Homo sapiens: one gene and its partners. The protein of the gene in region 4 purifies or fractionates together with the protein of the main gene of each other region. This does not show direct contact. Each region holds a gene or a part of one and is shown on either strand. Other genes may lie near its edges.

Region 1 (3,500 bases), about 36 Mb from region 4:
GATCCCTTCTTCAGGCAGGACACACAGGACACAGCCCGATCAGGACACCCAGGAACCAGCCCAGGGCCACACACACAGATGCCACACCCAAATCAATGAGCATATGGGCCCCAGGGGACCACACACAGCCAAGACACACGAAGGAGCCGACAGACACAGGAGAAAAGACAGTGAAAGGTATGCATCAGTCAGGTAGCCGAATCTGAGCTGGAAGCTACAACAAGGCGTGGCTTCAGCTCCTGCCCAGGGGGTACTGGCCCTACCCTCAGCAACTGTTTCAATTCACAGTCTCTTGGGTTCAAAAAACCTGGGAAGTGTGCGTGTCTGGTGGGAATGGGGTGGCGTGGTGGAGCTTCTGGGCCCCTCTGCACCAGCAGGGTGACAGACCTGATCTCCTGTCTGATCCTACTAAGCCTAATGCTCTAGGAACGCTGCTTGGTAACTTCCCAGGAAAGCATTCTGATACACGTAACCCACTTGAGCATCACAACCAACCAGTGAGGCAGGCCAAGTGAGCACCCACTGATAAGGGAGGAAACTAAGGGACTCCCCATGTCCCCGGATAGAGTGCCACACTGGCGTCCCAGCCTGGGGCTGTGGCCACTGCCCCCTTTGCTGTGGGGGGTGCCGGGGCCCTCCAGACGCCCTCCCTGCTCCTGGGCTTCGGCAGCCCAGGGGAGCCCCAGCACCAGCCCCGCTGGACAGACCCATGAGGTACCGTCAGAGCTCCAGCTGCTGCGGCGGGCGTTCTGCTTGATGGGGATGGTGCTGGGCAGCTCGCACATGGTGAAGATGCTGCTTTGGCCGGGCACCTGTACCAGCTCGATGCACTTGCCATTGAGCTGAGAGGACAGGGCGCAGTTCATGGGCTTGTAGGCGAAGGCAGAGCAATACCCAGACAGGCAGGCTCGCTGGTAGAAGTCCAGCACTTTCTTTCTGCCAGGGAAGCAGGCGGAGGTGAGGTGAGTGTTCCTGCCTGTGAAGGGCAGGTGCCCCGGCAGCGCGACTGCTCTTGCTGCTGGCATGTGCTTCCTCACCCACCTGTCAGATCCCGAGAGAGGGTAGATGTCAGCTCCGTCCCAGAAGTCTGTGCAGGCCTCTAAGACCACATCAGCGGTGCCATGGGACAGCATCTGCTCTGTGCCTGGGGGAGAGAGTTCAAACCCTGAGTGTCGCTAACCAGCCCCCTCACGCTGACCTGACAGGCAACGCACTGTCCTCCTGGAGAAGGGCGCTGAGGAGCCCCTGCCAGAGGAGGAGACTCCCTGGGACTCACGGACAGCAAGGCTCTGCAATGCCACTGGGCTTGGAATGCAGACACCATATTCCCATCCTTTGGACAATCCCGGCCTCTGCAGCCAACACCATCCCAGCCCTGGTCCCCAATTCCAGCCCTGCCAGAGTGGAACACTTGGAAGCAGTCTACTTTTCATCTGCCCAGGCCTCCCTAGCAATGGGTGGGGCTGGGCAGAGCCCCCCTGCCAAGCTCTGGAAGGTCTCGCCTGGTGCTGGCCAACGTAGCCAGGGCTCACTGGTGGTGGTGTCTTTAATGAAGAGGCTGATCATGTGGCTGAGGGGAGGCCGCCGCTTGGTGACACAGGAGAGCCGCCCCAGCGATGTCTCCTTCATTGTCTCGGCACTGGGGAGGCGGTACAGCGCCAGATGGTTCTCCTGCTTGAAAAGCTCCTTGGCCCCAGGAGTGAAGCCTGCAGGGCGGGGAACAGGAACTTAGGGCCATGCCCTGGCAATACCCTGCCAGGTCCATTAAGTCCCGTGAGGAGTTGGTACTGGGCCTCTTCTAGGAGGCGGGTCCAGCCAGCCATCCCCTGCCATGGGGACCTGTACCAATGAGGCGGGCAAGCTCGCAGAGGCCCCAGGGCACATGGACGGGCAGCACGGCGCTGTGGCTCTCTTGCAGGGCGATGTTGCACAGGTGGTCGGAGAATCGGCACAGGCGCTCGGTGACGCTGGCATCACACAGGTTCAGCAGCACATTGAGGCCCAGGGGTTTGAGGGAGGTGAGGTGCAGCTGCCAGTTGGAGTCATCAAACTGGATGCAGGAGGGGTTCTGCTGGTCCTGGGACAGGCTCAGCATCTCCAGGTGGTAGTCACACACAAAGTCCTCTGCTTCGTAGGGGTCGCTCTCCATCCCAGGCTGGGTCTGGGGGAAATGTGGAGGAGAGCCTCAGCCCGGGATAGGGTGTGGGGAAGCCAGCACTGGCTCTGCCCACCTCCCAAGGCTGGGGAGGGCTCCTGCCCCTGAAAGGCACCCTTCCCAGGAGAGAGCTGCTGCTCACCCTCTTCCACCCGCTCCCTCCTGAAATCCGCTTCCTGTCCTTCTTGGGCTCCTGTCTGCTTCTATGGACTATTAATATATCTCATGACACTGGCAGGAGCTAAAAAGAGGGGTGGCCAGACCAAAGAGGACACAGTTGAGGGATCTTCTGTGGCCAGGGAACATCTCTAAGAGGGAGCTCCGGGCTGTGTATATTTGGAAGGTTCCAGTAGGGACACCAGTGATTGCGATTACAAGAATGGAAGGGTAGGGGGAGGCTCCACCTACTTCGCAGCAGACTTGGGGAGGGCCTCAGGGACCACTGGCCTAGCCTGGAGGTGCTGGGACAGAGGGCAGAGACGCCTGCTCTTTCAGACCTTGTGAGGCCAGGCTGGCCAGGGAGGCCAGGACAGCCTGTGGCCGAGGGTGTGGCTGCCCCGTGCCACCCCCTCCCGTCACCTTGCTGGGCTCTTCTTCACCACCCTCGGTGTCCCTGCTGAAGCTCACGTTGGAGCCAGATGGGTGTTTGCTGCGGCCATGCGCTTTGTGGTGTGAATAGGGCTCGGGGGGCTTGGGAGCCTCGCCAGGCCAGTCGCCACGCTCCTGCTCATTGGAAAGGTGCAGGGTGTTGTTCAGGGAGCCAGCCAGGAGGGCGTCTCGTTCATGGGGCTGAAGAGAATGAGGAGCACAGGCTAGGACCAGTGGCTCCCATGGCCTGGGGAGGCAGGATGCTTCTAGGTCCCCTGGCTGCCTTGTCTTCACCTCACCTGCCCAGAAGCAGATCCTAATGGTGCCCAAACCCTCCTTCGCCCTCCGAAACCTCACCCTCCCTGGCCAGGCTCCAAGGCTAAACAGCCTGGCCCAGAGTCGGGCCCATGGGAGCCGGCCGTACCTCCTCCTCTACCTCGGGATGGCAGAAGGAGCGGGTGGATAGGCCATCGGTGAGGTCCTCATGGCTGCTGTGAGGGGGCTCCACCTTCCCGCTGAAGAACAGTACAGTCTCTGGGCTGGGATTTGGCCATGACAGGATCCCCTGTTTGTCCACACAGCACAGGACCTGCATGGAAAGCATTTGAGATAGGAAAGGGGCCTGGCATTAGCCTATCCTGCCCAGGGGCCACTCAAGCGGCAGGTGGGCAGCCCAGGCCCAGCCAGAGAGCAGGGCGGGCATGACAGTTGCCTCCTCCCCGCAAGGCCCACCCTCACCGTGACAGAGCCCAGGCTG
Region 2 (3,500 bases), on a different chromosome or scaffold from region 4:
TGATCAGTTAATCAAATAACTTGGTTAAATTAGAGGATCACTAAAAATAATACAAACTGTAAACATTTTAAGATAAAACATATAAACAAACATTCATTCCTGTCTTTTAATGTAAGGCTAAGACCTCTTCTTTGTGTAAAAGTCAACTGTTTAGTCATCTTTTTTTGCATAAGCCACATTCATCTCTGATTTCCAGTTTGGGTTGCTTTAAAAAGTACGAACAAAGAATCCTCTATTTTTTACAGTCTTTTCTCCACCTAATTCAAGAGCTATTTTTAGTAACCATTTCCATGTCTTTACATTCACTCATTTATATAAGGTTTAAATAAAATATAGTAAGAAATACAGTTGACATAAGCAGATTTGGGAATAAACACAACTGCCTCTTGGTAAAGTATATCAGCCAACTGATGGGAAACTCCAGACACACTGGAGAGTAGTCTTACCCAGAGGAGTATTTACGAATACGCTTTATGGAAGGATGCAGAACGCTGAGGATTGCAATGAGTCACTTAACGGAGGTTGTTAAGACAGCTTCAACTGTATTGACCTCTCCTCCTAATTTTTGGACTACTCAGTAATCTGTATCCCCCTTTCCTAGCCAGATTTATTTCCCACTTCTATTCAACAAGAATCTTCCTTTCAATCACATATGAATGAAATTCATTCAATTGAAATACATTCAATTACATCAATACATACTCTGTTCTTTTGCTTTTATCAAGTTTGTCCTAGTCACCTGAAAATTTTTTCTTCCTTTTTCTCTCTGCCTTTGTAAATTTTACCATCCTCCAGGCCCAGGATAAAGGTTTCTCATGACAAGCCCACGCTTCATTATCTCCCTCTTCTATGAACTTAAGTCTGTATCAAGCATTTATCCCTTTATTATATTGTAATCCTTCATTATCCCCCTTTTCCTGCATTAATTTTTCCCCTTTCTACTGGATTATTCCTATTAGCACACAAATAGGTTCTGTATCTTTTCATTTATTTTTTAAGTACTAAAACTACTTCTCAAACACCACAGTATTTTTCCTCCCCCCTTCATAGCCATACATCTTGAAACAGTTGCCTATTCATACTCTTTCTACTTCCTCACTTCCCATGTACTTTCTCTTTAAATCACTACAGGATGGGATTCCACCCTCATCATGCCTCTTGTCACAACCCCCATGTTGTCCAATCCAATAATTTTTCTGTCTTCTTACTTGACCTCAGTGACATCTGACAATTGAGCTTCCTTCCTCTTTCTAGAAACTTCCTCTCTTGCCTTCTAAGACATTATGTTCCCCATTTTTCTCCCACCCACTGGCTCACAATCTCAGTTTCCTTCCTCTAGTCCTCCTCTTCTAATAAACCTCTTAATATCAAGTTTTTTCAAGGATTCATCCTGTTTCTCTCCCTTCCCCTAAGTCACAGGTTTGCAAAAAAGACAGAACCAACTCCTAAAGCTTTGCAAAAAAGACAGAACCAACTCCAACTCCTAAAGAAGCTTTAGACATTTCTAGCAGTGGTTTTGGGGAAAATAGTAATTGCATTAAGTGAGGAAGGGCCAGAGATGCCAGGTATTCTTCAATGCAAGAGAGTTCCCAACAATGAAGACTTTTACCATGTCATGATTTTCAAATGTGCCACTAGATAATCACATGGGTAAGAAACCTACCTAGAAGACCAGGTGTGGTGGCTCATGCCTGTAATCCCCGCACTTTGGGAGGCCAATGTGGGTGGATCACCTGAGGTCAGGTGTTCAAGACCAGTCTGGGCAACATGGTGAAACCCTGTCTCTACAAAAATACAAAAAATTAGCCAGGCATGGTGGTGCACTGGTAGTCCCAGCTACTCAGGAGGCTGAGGCAGGAGAATCGCTTGAACCTGAGAGGCAGAGTTTACAGTGAGCTGAGATCACGCCATTGCACTCCAACCTGGGCAACAAGAGCGAAGCTCCGTCTCAAAAAAAAAAAAAAAAAAGAGAAAAAAAACCCTACCTAGAACCTCAGTTTTACAGATAGAAGTATTACAATCGGGTTTCAATGTACATAATTGTCAAGAACTACAACCATCATGTAAATCAAGAGGCAACTCTGCTTTTTCCCATGAGTTGACTATTTTGAAAAATCAGATAACCAATGGCAATGAAGATCTGAGATGCCAAAACTACACAACTGTCTCACTCTGTTTGAGAAGCAGTCACATTCACGTGGTTTTAACATAGGCGAGGCACTCCCTATTCTGTGTCCCAGCTTTATTTTCTCCATATATTATTCTTAAGTAATTTTTGGTATATGCTAAAATCTAGAGAAAACTAGACCATCCAGCATACTGTATCTTTTACTTACTTACCTTATTTATGAACTCTCTCCTCCCACTAAAATGTAAGTTCCGTGAATGAAGTTTTTTTAAATTTATTGCTATATCCCCAGCATCCAGTACAGTGTCTAATACATACAAAGGCTGAATTCATTGATTCATCTGATTACTTCATGTTTTCTATTATGGTCATGAAAAAGTACTTCCATATTAAAATAATAACAACAGGCCAGGCGCGGTGGCTCACATCTGTAATCCCAGCACTTTGGGAGACCAAGGCAGGTGGATCACCTGAGGTCAGGAGTTCAAGACCAGCCTGGCCAACATGGCGAAACCCCGTCGCTACTAAAAATACAAAAATTAGCTGGGCGCGGAGGCAAGCACCTGTAATCCCAGCTACTCTGGAGGCTGAGGCAGGACAATCGCTTGAACCCAGGTGACGGAAGTTGCAGTGAGCCAAGATCGTGCCACTACACTCCAGCCTGGGTGAAAGAGCAAGACTCTATCTCAAAAAAATAATAATGATAACAACAAAAACAAATACTTCTATTTGTTATAGTTAAACCGTGGTACTGATTTTTTAATTGTAAGGATATATTAACTAAAAAATATCATGCCAGGATAGAAAGGGTAGATTCCAAAATACCAGCTATCTAAAGGGAGTCCTGGGTCTCACAGTTGAGAAACACTGGCTTGTGTGCTCATTTTTAACTCAGACCTCTTTTTTTTGAATGCCATAGTCATAAATCACTTCCTTAACATCTCCAATTAAAGACCCTAAAGACATCACAAACCTAACATGCTCAAATGGAAAATGATCCTCCTCAATCTTTACCATCCCCCTGGAGTATCAGAAAACCCAATACTTCAGAAAGCTAGGAGTCATCTTTTAATCTATCTTCAAAATATACCTGGAATTCATCCACTTGTCCGCATTACCAAATCCATCACCTTGGATAACATTACCTGTTATTTGAACTATTATAGAATCTCCTAACTGCCTGATTTCTACTCTTTCCCCTTCAATCCATTCTCCATATAACAGTGCTCATCTTAACAAGGGCTTCTCAATGAATTTAGGGTAAAATTCAAACTCTTAATCATGGCCTTAGTCCTTGCAAGACTGGTTCTTTGATTAACTCTCCAACTTTATCTTATACTACTCTTCCCTTCACTGACTACGTGCCAGCCAC
Region 3 (3,500 bases), 690 kb from region 4:
TTAAAAAGAAAGAAATTCTGGCCAGGTGTGGTGGCTCACGCCTGTAATCCCAGCACTCTGGGAGGCCGAGGCAGGCAGATCACGAGGTCAGGAGATCGAAACCATCCTGGTCAACATGGTGAAACCCCGTCTCCACTAAAAAAATACAAAAATTAGCTGGGCGTGGCAGCACGCGCCTGTAGTCCCAGCTACTTGGGAGGCTGAAGCAGGAGAATCGCTTGAACCCGGGAGGCGGAGGTTGCAGTGAGCCGAGATCGCACCACTGCACTCCAGCCTGGCAACAGAGCGAGACTCTGTCTCAAAACAAATAAATAAATAATAAAAAGAAAAAAATTCTGACACATGATACAGTATGGATGAACCCTGAAGACATTATGCTAAGCAAAATAACAGAGTCACAAAAGGACAACTGCTGTTTGCTTCCTTTTTTTTTTTTTATTTTTTGAGATGGAGTTTCATTCATAACATGTTGCCCAAGCTGGAGGGTCACCGCAACCTCCGCCTCCTGGGTTCAAGCGATTCTCTTGCCTCAGCCTCCCAAGTAGCTGGGATTACAGGCGTGCACCACCATGCCCGGCTAATTTTGTATTTTCAGTAGAGACTGGGTTTCTCCATGTTGGTCAGGCTGGTCTCAAACTCCTGACCTCAGAAGATCCGCCCACCTCAGCCTCCCAAAGTGCTGGGATTACAGGCATGAGCCACCTCGCTTGGCTGTTTGCTTCCTCTTATGTGAAGTTCCTAGAGTAGTCAACTTCATAGGGGCAGAAAATTGAACACTGATTGCCAGGGGTTAGGGAGGGGGAATTGGGAATTAGTATTTAATGGGTATAGAGTTTCAGCTGGGAAAGATAAAAGTTCAGAGATGAATGGTAGTGCTGGTTGCATAACAATGTGAATATACTTAATGCCACTCAACTATATATCAAAATGGTTAAGGTGCGTGCCTATAGTCCCAGCTACTTGGGAGGCTGAGGTAGGAGAATCACTTGAACCCAGGAGGCGGAGGTTGCAGTGAGCCGAGATCGTGCCACTGCACTGCACTCCAGCCTGGGGACAGAACGAGAATCTCCTAAAAAAAAACAAAACAAACAAACAAACAAAAAAAACACCTATTATTATATGTATTTTACCACAATTAAAAAAAATTTTTTTTCCCAAGTTTGTTTGTAGGATTTGGTTTTAACGAGCAGCCTCTCAATTTATTAAAAGAGAAGGAGACGCTGAGTTATCAAGTGGTCCAGATAACATTTTCACTATTTAGCACCTGTCCTCCCCAGATTACAAACAGAAGTTTGCTAGGTAAGTGGAGAATCAGAGCCAGAGCCAGAGAAGAACCTGATTAGTGGATTTTTGTTTTTTGAGACAGGGTCTTGCTCTGTCACCCAGGCTGGAGCACAGTGGCATGATCACAGCTCATGTTGCCTTGATCTGCCAGGCTCCAGTGATCCTCCTGCCTCACCCTTCCAAGGTGCTGGGATTACAAGAGTAAGCCACCATGCTTAGCCAACTTTTTCGGTTTTTGTTTTGAGACAATGTCTTGCTCTGTTGCCCAGGCTGGAGTGTAGTGGTGAGACCACAGCTCACTGCAGCCTCATCTCCCGGGCTCAAACAATCCTTTCGCCTCAGCCTCCCAAGTAGCTGGGACTACAGGTGTGTGCCCCTACGCCTGGCTAAATTTTTTAATTTTTAGTAGAGATGAGGTCTTGCTATGTTGCCTAGGCTGGTATTGAACTGCTGAGCTCAAGCGATCCTCCCACCTCAGCCTCCCAAAATGTTGGGGTTACAGGACCTTAATAGCTGGGTTCCTACAGCTCTGATGGCCAGATGCCCTCTCCATTGTAGGGACAACAGCAGAAGGGAGTTTGAAAAAGGTGTTGGAATGAATTAGTGAAAAGGGAAAAGCATTCTAAACTAAATTACAAAGGTCCTACTGGCGCCAACTATGCTCCGTCAGGTGGAATGATCATTTGCACTTGCTTTAGGTGCCCATAAGTGCCCACGCTGCTCAAATCACCACCCTTTTGTCCATACTCCTGGAAAGTACTGAATTCCATTCTTCTTAAGGTTTAAGAGGCGCCTACTCTAGGTACAGAAGGAGCCTTGCAGGTGAAAATGAAGGTTAGTAAGTACCTCAACGTCCCGCTTCAGTTTCTCCAGGAAGTTCTTTTTACTCTCCTCTCCCACATGCAGCTTCTGCCCTTCATTGAGGAAGTCATTGTCTTTGAATGTTGGCAAGTCCTTGGCCTAGGAGAGCAACAGCAGTTAGGCTGGGTAAGCCTGATTAATTCACCCCAGGGACACCCAACTGTTCTGCCGGGAGCAACTATACAGAAAGGGGAAGGAGGGGTTGTCAGTGTACCGACCCTCAACCTGCTAAATCAGCAGTGCAGGAGCCTCTAGTCCCAGGCTTTGGGTGGGCAGGGAGGGCAAACACATGAAAGATGAGGAATGACTAAAGGATTCTTTCCTGTTGAGCCTGGACCAGCTCAGGGCTCAGGCAGCCACTGACTGACTCAGGCTGGACTATGAGATAGAAATGTCTGCCATCCCAGCAGGACTATGAAGAACGTAGTGAGGGCAGAGGTAAAAGACCAGAGACCAAGGTCTAGGCCTAGCACAAGGACAGACAGGTGATTCATGACACACGGCATTTCATGTTGACAGACGGCATGTCTGGGAGCTGGGCTAGGGGCTGGGGTGGGCGAGGGACAGGATGGCCGACAGGAGTTGTTTCTGACTCCAAGCGACCCTTCCATTCCTGCTCAGCACCAGCATACCTTCTCCTTGTCGCTCGCTTCTCTGGCAACCGTAGAACCCTGAAAGGATAAGAGCCATCAGGGGAAGTCAAGCTGAGGCAAAGTCGACTGCATGAGCAAACATGGGAGAGCCAGCAGGTGAACTCAAGTAGGCTTGTTAGAGTCCTAGAGGGGCCAGGAGGCAGCACCTTGTTCATTTACTGTGTCAAGCCCACTTATAGAGCTCTATGTGCAAGACACTTTTTAGGTGCTCAGCAAACAGGACTGCACTGGAGAAGCTCAGTCCCTGCCCTTGAGCTACTTTCCTTCTAACAGGGGAGACAGATATTCAGCAGTGGTTCCACAAGTCATTAGTTCATTCACTACCACGGTGCTCAGTGGTACAGGGAGGAGCAGGACACTCTGAAAGCACATACCACACGGGCCCGGCCTGGGGAGGGACAGTGGCCAGGGCCTACCTACTTCCTGGAAGTAGTATTTGGGCTGAGCTCAGAAGGGTAAGGAGGAAGCAATTAGGTGGGGGAAGGAGTGGGTGGAGAGAGAGAAGGAGACTATTCCAGACAGCAGATGTGAAATCCTGGGAAGAGGAGCACAGGCACTGCAGGAACACAGAGGAAACCAGCCCAGTTGCAGCACAGAGGGAAGGGATGGCGGCATAAGGTGACAGAAGTCAGAAGCCAGGTTCAAGAACACGGAGCACCCTAGTTCACAGCCACAAGTGTGTCCTTCTCAGAGTCTAGAGAT
Region 4 (3,500 bases):
GGAGGCGGAGGTTGCAGTAAGCCAAGATCACGCCACTGCACTCCAGCCTGGGTGACAGAGAGACACTCCATCTCAAAAAAAAAAACAAAACTAAAAATATTGTTGGAATCAATAGGACTAAAAAACAACAACGCAAACATGAACATGAGAATATAAAATACTGAAAGGTACTGATATTGACCAAATATGCACTTACCCTTAAGAAAACTAACATTCCTTCTGTACATATTTGGCTGAAACAAGAGTTTTTCTCTGCTTGAAATACAGCTAAGTAACATCTCTATCCCAGGGAAAACATGTAAAACCCAAAACACTAATGCCAGCTAGCTACCAAGTACTACTGTTTTAGTCAGCATGACCAAATCTTCCTAAGGAAGTCTGTTAGAAACCCTTCAATTTCTCACAGAAGCCTACTGTTAACAGATTTGGATGGCCATATACTTGTGGTATTTTTAGTGATACAAATGCTACATTTAAGTTCCAGGTTCACTCTTCTAGAAAAAAGCGGAGGAGTAGACAACAAATAGGTAAACACAGCCAGCAATAAGCAATGTGTCTTCAAGAAATGTCTTCAAAAACAAATGTATTTCCCCCCCACTCACCGAATTAAGTTAGGTTCCACTCAACTATTAATCATTGCTAATCTAGCGGATGCAAAGACACTGCATTTCTGCCAAAGCATTTTCAGTCTTTTAAAATTAGGTTGTTTCGCCGGGCATGGTGGCTCATGCCTGTAATCCCAGCGCTTTGGGAGGCTGAGGCAGGCAGATCCTGAGGTCAAGAGATCAAGACCATCCTGGCCAACATGGTGAAACCCCGTCTCTACTAAAAATACAAAAATTAGCTGGGCATGGTGACGCGCGCCTGTAGTCCCAGCTACTTGGGAGGCTGAGGCAGGAGAATCGCTTGAACCTGGGAGGCGGAGGTTGCAGTGAGCTGAGATCGCACCACTGCACTCCAGCCTGGCGACAGAAACTCTGTCTCAAATTAAAAAAATAAAATAAAATAAAATAAAATAAAATGTTGCTTATTTCATTTTGACTGTCTCCCAAGGAAAAAAACACAAGAGAATATCATAGAAGGGATCTATATGTTCCTCTGACTCTACAAAATTTTTGTACTGTTTAGAATTTCAATCAATGAAGAAAAACATGTAATGCACACATACAAACATATAATGCTCTCTATAAGCCAACTAAAAGCGTGCATGTGTCTCTGGGAATATTATATGTTTATATTTGCATGCTACGCTACCATATTGTGTCTCCAATTTTTTCTAAACTTATTTTTACCATTACTGACTAAATTATGTGAGTAGAGATTCATCTGCTTTTTTTTTTTTTTTTTTTTTTTTTTTTTTTTTTTTTTTTCAGATAGAGTTTCACTCTTGTTGCCCAGGATGGAGTGCAATTATTGCAATCGCGGCTCACCTCAACCTCCTCCTCCTGGGTTCAAGCAATTCTCCTGCCTCAGCCTCCCAAGTAGCTGGGATTACAGGCATGTGACACCACGCCCAGCTAATTTTGTATTTTTAGTAGAGAAAGGGTTTCTCCATGTTGGTCAGGCTGGTCTCGAACTCCCGACCTCAGGTGATCCGCCTGCCTCAGCCTCCCAAAGTGCTAGGATTACAGGCGTGATCCACTGCGCCTGGCCTTTTTCTTTCTTTTTTTTTTTTTTTGAGACGCAGTCTCATTCTGTCGCCCAGGCTGGAGTGCAGTGGCGTGACTTTGGCTCACTATAACCTCTGCCTCCCAGGTTCAAGCGATTCTCCTGCCTCAGCCTCCCGAGTAGCTGGGATTATAGGTGCATGCCACCACGCCTGGCTAATTTTTGTATTTTTAGTAGGGACGGGGTTTCACCACGCTGGCCAGGCTGGTCTCAAACTCCTGACCTCAGGAGATCTGCCCGCCTTGGCCTCCCAAAGTGCTTGGGATTATAGGCATAAGCCACCACGCCCAGCCTCCTCTACTCTCTTAAGAGAACATGAGATATGCTGTTTTACCTAAGAATCCAAAAGGAATCACTAGAAAGAAGCACTTCTTACTGAAACTCCTTTTAGTGTTTTAGTCTTAGCACACTCTTCTCTATTCCCATACCCTAAAGTTAACAATTTTTACAGCCTTAATGAACTACTCTATCAAGAAACAAATATCCTAAGAATACTTTTTAGACTTCCTTAAAACACTAAGCAGCATGGCTGTGCGCATTGGCTCACGCCTGTAATCCCAGCACTTTAGGAGGCCGAGGCTGGCGGATCACCTGAGGTCAGGAGTTGGAGACCAACCTGGCCAACATGGTAAAGCCCTGTCTCTACTAAAAAAACACAAAAATTAGCCAGATGTGATGGTGGGCGCTTGTAATTCCAGCTACTCTCAGGAGGCTGAGGCAGGAGAATAGCTTGAACCCGAGAGGCAGAGGTTGCAGTGAACCGAGATCGCTCCACTGCACTCCAGCCTGGGCAACAAAACAAGACTCTGTCTCAAAAAAAAACAAAAAACAAAGCAGCTTTACAAATGCTACACTTAAGACTTAGGCATTTTACTGTATATAAATTTTACTCCTCACCCCTCCAAAAAAAAAAAAAGGGTAATCCAGCTAATGGTAAACATGTTAAAGTGTTTAGAATGAAGTATACTGATGTCTACAACTTACTTTGAAATAAATGAAAATAAAAGATAGATTAATGGACAGGTAGATAGATTACAAAATACATGGCTTTTTTTTTTTTTTTTTTAAGACTGAGTCTTACTCTGTCTCTGTCACCTAGGCTGGAGTGCAATGGCACGATCTCAGCTCACTGCAACCTCTGCCTCCCGGGCTCAACTGATTCTCCTGCCTCAGCCTTCCGAGTAGCTGGGACTACAGGCGCACGCCACCACACCCAACTAATTTTTTATATTTTTATAGAGACAGCATTTCACCACATTGGCCACGCTGGTCTCAAACTCCCTACCTCGTGATCCGCCCACCTCGGCCTCCCAAAGTGCTGAGATTACAGGTGTGAGCCACTCCTGGCCCAATTTTTTTTTTTTTTGAGACAGGGTCTCACTCTGTTGCTCAGGCTGGAGTGCAGTGGTGTGATCACAGCTCACTGCAGCCTTGACTTCCTAGGCTCAAGCAATCCTCCCACCTCAGCCTCCCAGGCAGTGGGGACTACAGATGTGCACCACCGCGACCAGCTAATTTTTTTTTTTTTCCTGTAGAGAACGGGGCCTCACTATGTTGCCCAGCCTGGATACAGCAAATATTTATTGTAGAATCTTGCTGTTACATATATGGGTGTTCACTACAACCTTTCTGTGCTGGAAAATTTTTTATAATAAAATGGAGGAGGAAACATTAAGAACTCCAGCCCTTGACAGCTAGGAACACTCTGCAGCTTGATGTACTCACACCATTTATGAATTGTAACTTTAAGTCAGCAAAAATTACACTGAAATACAAAAGCCATGCATGAGCCAGGCGTGGTGGCTCATGCCTGTAATCCCAGCACTTTGGGA

What was found. Proteins that work in one complex are often made in the same cells at the same time.
Region 1: the proteins of CDK12 (region 4) and TMEM94 purify together in Homo sapiens (affinity purification with mass spectrometry, with the first as the bait; one large-scale study listed by BioGRID). This does not show direct contact.
Region 2: the proteins of CDK12 (region 4) and C2CD5 purify together in Homo sapiens (affinity purification with mass spectrometry, with the first as the bait; one large-scale study listed by BioGRID). This does not show direct contact.
Region 3: the proteins of CDK12 (region 4) and PIP4K2B purify together in Homo sapiens (affinity purification with mass spectrometry, with the first as the bait; one large-scale study listed by BioGRID). This does not show direct contact.

What each region holds. Positions count from the first base shown.
Region 1 is NC_000017.11:75,491,135-75,494,634, reverse strand, and holds part of TMEM94 (transmembrane protein 94), read right to left. Parts: coding exon 3,482-3,500; intron 3,333-3,481; coding exon 3,180-3,332; coding exon of another isoform or gene 3,168-3,179; intron 2,945-3,167; coding exon 2,735-2,944; intron 2,162-2,734; coding exon 1,846-2,161; intron 1,707-1,845; coding exon 1,533-1,706; coding exon of another isoform or gene 1,503-1,532; intron 1,145-1,502; coding exon 1,042-1,144; intron 937-1,041; coding exon 719-936; intron 9-718; coding exon 1-8. UniProt on the Homo sapiens protein: Could function in the uptake of Mg(2+) from the cytosol into the endoplasmic reticulum and regulate intracellular Mg(2+) homeostasis.
Region 2 is NC_000012.12:22,538,043-22,541,542, forward strand, and holds part of C2CD5 (C2 domain-containing protein 5), read right to left. Parts: intron 1-3,500. UniProt on the Homo sapiens protein: Required for insulin-stimulated glucose transport and glucose transporter SLC2A4/GLUT4 translocation from intracellular glucose storage vesicle (GSV) to the plasma membrane (PM) in adipocytes.
Region 3 is NC_000017.11:38,775,557-38,779,056, forward strand, and holds part of PIP4K2B (phosphatidylinositol 5-phosphate 4-kinase type-2 beta), read right to left. Parts: intron 2,817-3,500; coding exon 2,778-2,816; intron 2,245-2,777; coding exon 2,131-2,244; intron 1-2,130. UniProt on the Homo sapiens protein: Participates in the biosynthesis of phosphatidylinositol 4,5-bisphosphate. Preferentially utilizes GTP, rather than ATP, for PI(5)P phosphorylation and its activity reflects changes in direct proportion to the physiological GTP concentration.
Region 4 is NC_000017.11:39,464,486-39,467,985, reverse strand, and holds part of CDK12 (cyclin-dependent kinase 12), read right to left. Parts: intron 1-3,500. UniProt on the Homo sapiens protein: Cyclin-dependent kinase that phosphorylates the C-terminal domain (CTD) of the large subunit of RNA polymerase II (POLR2A), thereby acting as a key regulator of transcription elongation.